Linked DNA regions of Homo sapiens: region 2 is linked to region 1. Evidence: fine-mapped expression QTL. A gene starts in region 1. The other region holds a variant in brackets. All regions are shown on one strand. Distances are from middle to middle. Region 1 holds the start of SIGLEC10-AS1 (SIGLEC10 antisense RNA 1). Region 2 overlaps LIM2 (lens intrinsic membrane protein 2).

Region 1 (4,381 bases):
CTACAGATTGAGAAAGTGCATGTATTCTAATCCTCAAACCAACTCTCAAAGGAGACAGAGGAAGAAATGAAGGCTCAGAGGGGGTGAGTGACGTGGCTGAGGTCTCATAGCTAGTAAGTGCCAGGCAGGATTTGAATTCAGAACTATCGGTGCTTTTCCCACCTTGATGTCGCTAAGACAAGGGGTGCAAAAGTCAGAAAGTGGGATGTCAGCTTTAGAGAAGAGAAAAAGTGGAAGCATGGCCCAGACACTCACCAGGGGGCCAGCCGTCGGGACCACATTGATGTAATCCAGGATCGTGCTGTGCCGGGAGAACCTGGGCCTCGGGGTTTCTGTCTGAGTCCGTCTCTTCGGTAGAATCTTCATGCTGAGGAAATGAACCCACCTGTTTGTGCCCTGCTGCACCTCCCTGTGACAGACTGCCACGTTTACTACCTGAGACCGTCACTATGACAGTTACTACTGTTACCACTTGAGACCGTCATTATGAGACTGAAAGAAGGAGGACAAACGTAGAAATGAAAACTTAAGACAAAAGAAATTATTTTAAAGGAAGGGGTCAGGGGAAGAAGAAGAGGGTTCCCTGCTACTAGTGAGCCAGGGCAGCTGTCTGAGCCTCTACAGCCCTTTGTATTTATTGGGTAGAAAGAGCAGAGAGCAGGAGGTAACAATTGGTCAGCTGTTTAATTGATCACAGGTTCATATTATTACTAACAAGCTTCAGCTGTGCCTAATTACAAGAAACACTTCGCTTGGGGCGTGACTGCCCTCAGCATTCCCTCTGGGAAGCAGACGCAGTTTGTCAGTTGGACAACATTCTGCATTTATGAGAACAGTTTGCTGTTTACTCATGTAACCTCCAGAGGTATACTGCGTTGATCACGACCTTCACTCTTTCGGCCTGCAACACCTCCCCTCTTCCTGGGTCCAGGCCCCAGACCCCGCCACGCCTCCTCTTAACCTACATGATCAGGGCCAGGCAGAGGAAAAGAAGAGCCGTGATGCCGATTCCCAGAAACGCTCCGTTGGAGAATGCCGTTGAGATGAGTCCCTTCTTATCTGCACACGGAGAGGGCAAGGTGAGCATTTCCCATCCACGCAGGGCTCACGAAGCCCGCTCATCACTCGGCATTAAGGCTTCCGGTTCCCATGGCGGACATTGTATCTGCAACCCCTCTGTTTACTTTTAGGAAACCCTGCCACACCCCGGCCCAGGTGTTAGGACTTCCCATTGTGTTTTCCTGTCTACATACAGATGCCACGGGTCTGCTGTGTCCCTCCAAGCTCCTGCTCCAACCACAGGACCCTACTCTTTGCCCCAGTCAGCTTCTCCTCCAAGAACCTTGGCATCCAGGCGGCCCCCTAACCTGGCAGCTGCAGGATGGATCCACTCTGGGCCCCATGGACGTTCCAGGCCTCACAGCGGAGCCTGAGGCCGGAGCTGAGCCCTCCATGGAGGCTCAGGGAGCTGTTGGCCCAGGGCCCGGCTGAGCTGGGGGTGACCTCGAAGGAGTCCTGGCTGCTGTTCCCCTCCAGCAGCTCCTCCCCAAGCCACCAGCGCAGAGAGGGGGCCGGGCTGGCCTGGGAGGAGCAGCTGCAGTGCAGACCCTCAGCCTCCCAGGAGCAGGAGGGGCCCAGCAGCTTCGGGGAGTCTGAGGGGAGGGAGGACAGGACTCAGCAGGGTCCCCTTCCTGGGACCCAGGTGTCCCCTTTCCCCCACTCACAGTGCACGGAGAGGCTGAGAGAGACGTGCTGGGAGCCCAGTGGGTGCCGAGCGTGGCAGGTGAACTCTCCTTCGTGCTCCACTTGAACCCGAGGCAGCTCCAGGACCCCGGGGTCTGAGGGCTGGGAGGGGCTCAGAACCTGTCCCCTCTGGGTCCAGCTCAGCCTGGCTGGGGGGCTGCTGTGTGTGACACAGACCAGGCACAGGCTTTGGCCCTCCAGTACTGGGAGAGACGTGCCGTTCCCAAGGTTTTCCAGGACTAGGGAAGGAAGAGGCAGAATCGATGAGCAGCTCAGGGCTCAGGGACCCTCCTGCGTGGGGACCCTCCAGACTCCTGGGCCCCCAATTCGGCACTGAGAGGCCTTGGCTCCTCTGTCCCCTTTCCTACCTGTCCTGTTTGCTTGGGAAACCATCACTCTCAGGTTCTCTGGAGGATCTGAAATGGAGACAGGGGACCGGCTCTAGACGGACCAGGGGCTTCCCTCTGGGTAAAGGGAACCATCCTGGACACTGAGGTGGGGGAAGTGGGTGGGATAGAAGGGCAGGGCAGAATCACCCACTGAGTCCCAGACACAAACTGCATGAGGGTCTACACAGGTAAGAAGGTCGGTCTCCGAGGCCTGGGGCTCCAGGCCCCCTCAGCTCTGGGACCCTGAGCCCAGCCCCTGTATCCCTCTGCCCTCCCAATGGACTCCAGGCCCCTGCTGGGCACACTCACACTGCACAGAGAGGTCCAGGGCTCGCTGCTGGGAGCCAAGCCTGTTCTCCGCTCGGCAGGTGTAGCGCCCTGAATCCCCAGCCTTCACCCCGGGCAGCTCCAGCCCCAGGGGTCTAGGGCCCCAGGGATGGGACGAGGAGAGGACTCTGTTCTGCAGGACCCAGCTCAGTGTGGCAGGGGGCTGGCTGTCAGCAGCACAGAGGAGCCGCAGGAACTGGCCTTTTTGGGCTTCCAGGTATGGGACATTTCCCTGGGGCTGGGGCTCCAGGGCTGGAGTGGGAGGAAAAAAAAAAAAGAGAGAAAGGGAGGGAGAAAGAGAGAAGGGGTACAGGGAGGAGCACATCCCCTCATCCCCTGAAGCCTTTTCATCTAAAGACAACTGGCCCAGCCCCAGCCCGACGGCCCTCAGTACCTGGCGTGTTGTCACGTGAAATGCTGATAACAAGGTCTCTGGGGGCATCTGCAACAAGATTGTGAGCTGGCTTCAGGGAGGGACAATTTATTCCTCACACCTGGAAAAAACTCCCTCAGGGAAAAGAAAGTGGGACTATCCCGGGAAGACAAGTGACAACCAGCGCCAGGGCTCACGTGTGTGGACCAGACGCCATTCCCATCCCCCTCCCAGGGCTGCGGCGGCATCCTGGGACCCCACAGCTTCCTCTCCCTGGATGCTCCTGAGCTGGGAGCCGCTCACTGTCCCACTGGGCTCCTCCACCTCCCCACCCACCGGGGCTGTCTGCACACCCCACCCTCCCAGGCCACACTCACAGGCCACACGGAGTCGGACGGTCCTCTGTGCGCTCACACCCTTTCTGGAGAAGTCCACATGGCAGGTGAGGTCGGTGTTGTGGTCCTGGGGTCTGGGCGTGAAGCTGAGCACTGAGAAGTGGGAGGTCGTTGGTTTGGTTCCTTGGGAGGAGAGGGCAGCCCCCGTCCAGGAGAAAGAAGGGGGTGGACATTCCTCAAAGGCCCAGTTAAACACACAGATGACCGTCACCGGCTGCCCGGGCTCCAGGGTCTCGGGGATGTAGACATCAGGCTTCTGAGTCAGGGCTGGGACAGAGACCGTGGTGGGAGATTCTTGTGCTGCAGGGGTCCCTGAGAGCCCTCTCTGCTCAGCCCATAGGCTGTCCCCAGGGTCCCTCCCCAGTGTGAGAGGCAGGGGTTCCCACCCCATTCCATACCTGTTACTTTTAGAAAGAACCCATCGTTCATGAAATTATATCTCACATAGCTTCCTCTCTCCACCCGAAAGAAGTACTGTGACTCATCCTGCATCTGCGCGTCTCTGATCACCAAGGAGCAGTTCCCCTTGGCGGGATCCCCAGTGAGCTGGAATCGGCCCCGGGTGCTCATTTCCACCTCTCGACTCTGGTGGTTTGTGGCCACAGGAGCACCCTTGGTTGTCTCAGTCACTGCTTTGAACCAGTAGCCATAAGCTGGGGTAGACCCTGTCCAGTCCTGTCGGGGGTAGGAGAAAGAGCAGGGCACAGAGATGCACAGGCCCTCCGGCACCATCACTGACTCCTGCACTCGTATCCAGAATCTCCCATCCATAGCCTGGGACCCTGTGGGGAGACAGAGGCTCAACCTGCAACCCCAGCCCTAGCTCCGCCCCAGGTCCTTTCCGGCCCTTGGCCCACTCACCGCCCAGCAGCGAGGACAGCAGCAGTGGCAGTAGCATCTCCGCATAGGAGGCGCAGGGCCTGCCTGAGACAGGCCTGTTCTCTGGTCGTGCTGTGAGTGGCTCAGGGCTCTTGGCAGAAGGGGAAGCCGAAGGCGGAAGCTGAGCCCTGGGGCCTGATGCATGAAATGAGCTTCAGACGCTGAGCTCACAGAACTCCTTTGCCTTCCCCCACACTCTCCGGCCCACCTTGCCCAGTTGTCCTCTGGGTCTCCTGGGGGCCCAGCCTGGCCTTGGGCTTGTTGAGCTGGTCCTT
Region 2 (4,381 bases), 33 kb before region 1:
ATAGGAGGGTCTTTGTTATTCTTGAGCCTCTTGGGCCCAACCTGAGTTTATGGTAATGAGATGAGATGACTCAGGGTTGGGTGTGGTTGTCAGAAAAACCAACCAGGTCAGGCACAGTGACTCATGCGTGTCATCCCAACACTTTGGGAGGCTGAGTAGGGTGGATCACTTGAGGTCAGGAGATCAAGATCAGCCTGGTCAACATGGTGAAACCCCGTCTCTACTAAAAATACAATAAAAAAAAATTAGCTGGGTGTGGTGGTGGGTGCCTGTAATCCCAGCTACTCAGGAGGCTGAGGCAGGAGAATCACTTGAACCCGGGAGGGGAGGTGGAGGTTGCAGTGAGCTGAGATCGAGCCACTACACTCCAGCCTGGGTGACAGAGTGAGACTCCATCTCAAAAAAGGAGAACAAAAAAGAAAGAAAGAAAGACCGACCATGATATGTTGAGGCTCTGAACCACTTGATATCAGGGAAGAAAGGAAGTTGGAAACTGCATTCCATCAATGACCAACGATTCAATCAGTCATGCCTATTTTACAAGACTCCAATAAAACCTCTGGACACTGAAGCTCAGTGGCGCTCCCTATTGGTGAAAACATCTGTGTGCTGGGAGGGTGATCCCTGGCTCCACAGGAAGAAGGCTTGGAAGCTCTGCATTTTGGGCTCTCCTAGACTCTGCCCTCTGTGTCTCTTCATTTGCTTGGACCTGAGTTGTGTCCTCTATAAGGAAACTATAACTGTAAGTATAGCACTTTCCTGCATTCTATGAGTTATTCCAGCAATTTTTGTTGTTGTTATTGTTGTTGTTGTTTTTGTTGAGACAGAGTCTCGCTCTGTCGCCCAGGCTGGAGTGCAGTGGCACAATCCCAGCTCACTGCAAGCTCCGCCTCCTGAGTTCATGCCATTCTCCTGCCTCAGCCTCCCAAGTAGCTGGGACCACAGGCGCCCGACACCACGCCTGGCTAATTTTGTTTTGTATTTTTAGTAGAGATGGGGTTTCGCCATGTTGGCCAGGCTAGTCTCAAACTCCTGACCTAGTGATCCACCTGCCTCGGCCTCCCAAAGTGCTGGAATTACGGGCGTGAGCCATCGCACCCGGCCTCCAGCAAATTTTTGAATCTGAGTGGGTCTTGGGAACCTCCTAGTTTGTAGCCAGTGGATCAAAAGCATGGGTGGCCCAGGCACCCTGCTTGCAGCTTGTAGCTGAGGTGGAAGCAGTCTTGCTAGGGACTGTGGTCTTAACCTGTGGAGTCAAACACAAATTTTAGGTGATTCATGCCAGAACTGAACTGTAGTACACCAGCTAGTGTCAGAATAGACTGGAACTAGAAATAGTCATGAGGTTGGTTTTGAGTGTGGGGATGGGATTAGGGTGGGGTGGGGTTGAGTGTGAGGAGGAGTAAGGGGTGAGAATGGTGTTGAGGGGTGGGGACAGATTGGGGTTTGAGATGAGAGCGAGGAGAGGGGTAGGGAGAGGGTGGGCTTACTCACTTGAGGAAAAAAACATGATGCCAGCAGAGAAGGGCCGGGAGATGCGGGAGAAGGTAGGCTGATGAGCGAAGGCCATGATGCCCATGATGATGCCGGAGATGGCGCATAGGGCAGACAGGATCATGAAGGCCCGGGTGGCATTCCAGTATGCTGTGGGAGCACCCCATGGTCATTCCCACACCTCCCCTGCTCTAAGTGAGAGATGCTGCTACCTCTGAGATGAAAATGCCTTGCCCCTTTCCATATCCCTAACCCAGCTCATCCTTCCCTTCTTTGCAAATGCCCTCTTCTTCACCTGGCAAACTCCTACTCATCCTCCAAAGCACAGCTCCCGTGACCCATCCTCTAGGAAGCATCTCCCCACCCCTCAGTCATCATCTTCACCCACGGCTAAGGGTTGTGACTCTCTTTGTCTGTCTCCCCCTCCAGCCTGATTGCTCCTTGAAGACAGGCGGTGGGTTGGTTCTGTGTCATAAACACCCCCACCACACATTTGGTTTGCATTCTGGCCTTGGGAAATGTTTGTTGAATGAATGAATGAATGAATGCTGATTCCTTATATTTTCCTACTAATTACTATTCTCTCTCACATTTCTTTTTTTTTCTTTTCTTTTTTTTTTTTTTTTTTTTTTTTTGAGACCGAGTCTTCCTCTGCCACCCAGGCTGAAGTGCTGTGGCACAATCTCAGCTCACTGCAGCCTCCACCTCTGAGGTTCAAACGATTCTCCTTCCTCAGGGTCCCGAGTAGCTGGGACTACAGGTGCGCACCACCATGCCCGGATAATTTTTGTATTTTTAGTAGAGACGGCATTTTGCCATGTTGGCCAGGCTGGTCTCAAACTCCTGGCCCCAAGTGATCCACCTGCCTTGGCCTCCCAAAGTGCTGAGATTACAGGTGTGAGCCACTGCGCCCAGCCTACTCTTTCATTTATTTTATACTACTTGCTTATATCTGAAAATGTCCTATTTACTTGTTTTTAACTTATTTATAATGTCTGTCTCTCCTCAGTAAATCCTTAGCTCTCAAGGACAAGCACCTTGCT[T/G]TCTCATTCACCACTGTGTCCCCAGCACCTACACCTGGTGCATAATAGGTGCCCAATAAATGCGTGAAATGAATTAATGTTGAGCACCGGGGCCATTCTTCTCTTGTGCTTTGCCCAGGGATGGCCCCTCAGGAAAGATAATAATAATCTCTTCATCCTTTAGCAACGGCTAACTATATGCCAGGCTCGCTACCCAGGTGTGATGTTGTTTATTCCTCCAGAGCCCTACTCTATAAGTACCATTTTTATGCTTCTTTTTCAAGTGAAGAAATGGAGGCCCAGAGAGGTAAAGTGACTTGCCCGAAGTCTCATAATTAGAAACAGGGCTGGAGTCAGAATCCAAGCTCCAAGGCCCACGCTCCTAACTGCTTGGCTATTCTGTCTGCTGGAGCACCTGGGAAATGGTGCACCTCAAACCTTGCATCTTGCCATTGAAAAGTAAAAAGTCTAGGATCTTTGTAAAACCCAGTCTTCTGCCTTGTAGAAGCCTCGGTGAGAGAAATTCCTGGCTGTTTCTCCATGGATTTTATGGGTTATGCCTTTCTGTCCCCCGCCTCAAATGTTTATGTTGAAATTGTAACTAGTGCCTTAGAATGGTAACTTATTTGGCAATAGAGTCTTTGCAAATATAATTAGTTAAGACGAGATCATGCTAGAGTAGGGTGGGGCTCTAATCCAAAGACTGGGCTGGGTGTGGTGGCTCCTGCCCAGTGTAATCCCAGCACTTTGGGAAGCCAAGGCAGGTGGATCACCTGAGGTCAGGAGTTTGAGACCAGCCTAGCCAAAATGGAGAAACCCTGTCTCTACTAAAAATACAAAAATTAGCCAGGCTTGGTGGTGGGCACCTGTAATCCCAGCTACTCAGGAGGCTGAGGCAGGAGAATCACTTGAACCCGGGAGGTGGAGGTTGCAGTGAGCCAAGATCATTCCACTGCCCTCCAGCCTGGGTGGCAGAGCGAGACTCCAACTCAAAAACAAAACAAAACATAAAACAAAGACTGCCGTCCTTATAAAAAGAGGAATCTGGACACAGACATGCTTTTAGGAAAAATGCCATGTGTGAGGAAGGTAGAAATTGGGGTGATGCATCTCCAAACCAAGAAACACCAAAGATTCCCAGAAAATCACCAGAAGCCAGGGAGGGAGGGACATGGAACAGATTCTCCCTCACAGCCCTCAGAAGGAACTGATTTTGCCCACATCTTCATCTCGGCCTCCAGAACTGTGAGACAACACGTTTCTGTTGTTCAAGCCACCCAGTCTGTGGGGCTTTTTTATGGCATCCCTAGCACACTAATTCAGGCTGGTCACAGCGGCTCAGGCCTGGAATCCCAGCACTTTGGGAGGCCGAGGCAGGAGGATTGCTTGAGGCCAGGAGGGTTTCTTTTTGATTATTTATTTTATCTTATTATTATTTTTTGAGACAGGGTCTTGCTCTGTCACCCAGGCTGGAGTGCAGTGGCTCTATCTTAGCTCACTGCAGCCTTAAACTTCTGGGCTCAAGTGATCCTCCCACTTCAGCCTTCTGAGCAGCTGGGGCCACGGGAGCACACCACCACGCCCAGCTAATTTTTTATTTTTTGTTGAGATGGGGTCTCCTTACGTTGCACAGGCTGGTCTCAAACACCTAGGCTCAAGTGATCCTCCTACCTCAGCCTCCCGAAGTGCTGGGATTCCAGGCTGAGCCACCACGTCCATCTGAAGCCGGGAGTTTGAAACAAGCCTGGGCAATACAGTGAGATGCTGTCTCTACAAAAATCAAATCAAATGAAATAATGAGGCCAAGTTCGGTGGCTCATGCCTATAATCCCAGCACTTTGGGAGGCCGAGGCGGGTGGATCACC

The links. PIP is the estimated chance that this variant, and not a neighbour inherited with it, causes the effect.
Region 2: its variant is the best candidate, but not a certain one, in a credible set for the expression of SIGLEC10-AS1 in whole blood (INTERVAL, PIP 0.89).

What each region holds. Positions count from the first base shown.
Region 1 is chr19:51,413,457-51,417,837 of GRCh38, forward strand. It overlaps SIGLEC10-AS1 (SIGLEC10 antisense RNA 1), which reads left to right and starts at 2,268. Exons shown (of 3, transcript NR_164125.1): 1 at 2,268-2,676; 2 at 2,973-3,274; 3 at 3,676-4,381. It overlaps SIGLEC10 (sialic acid binding Ig like lectin 10), which reads right to left and starts at 4,186. Exons shown (of 11, transcript NM_033130.5): 1 at 4,089-4,186; 2 at 3,626-4,009; 3 at 3,210-3,494; 4 at 2,854-2,901; 5 at 2,442-2,711; 6 at 2,112-2,159; 7 at 1,725-1,982; 8 at 1,368-1,652; 9 at 966-1,059; 10 at 256-367. The coding sequence starts at 4,125. RefSeq lists enhancers at 4,116-4,285, 4,346-4,381.
Region 2 is chr19:51,380,924-51,385,304 of GRCh38, forward strand. LIM2 (lens intrinsic membrane protein 2) reads right to left here. Exons shown (of 5, transcript NM_001161748.2): 3 at 1,495-1,644. Among named protein-coding and RNA genes, the nearest start is that of LIM2-AS1, 4.0 kb to the right of the region's middle. The variant T/G (reference allele first, on the strand shown) is at 2,538.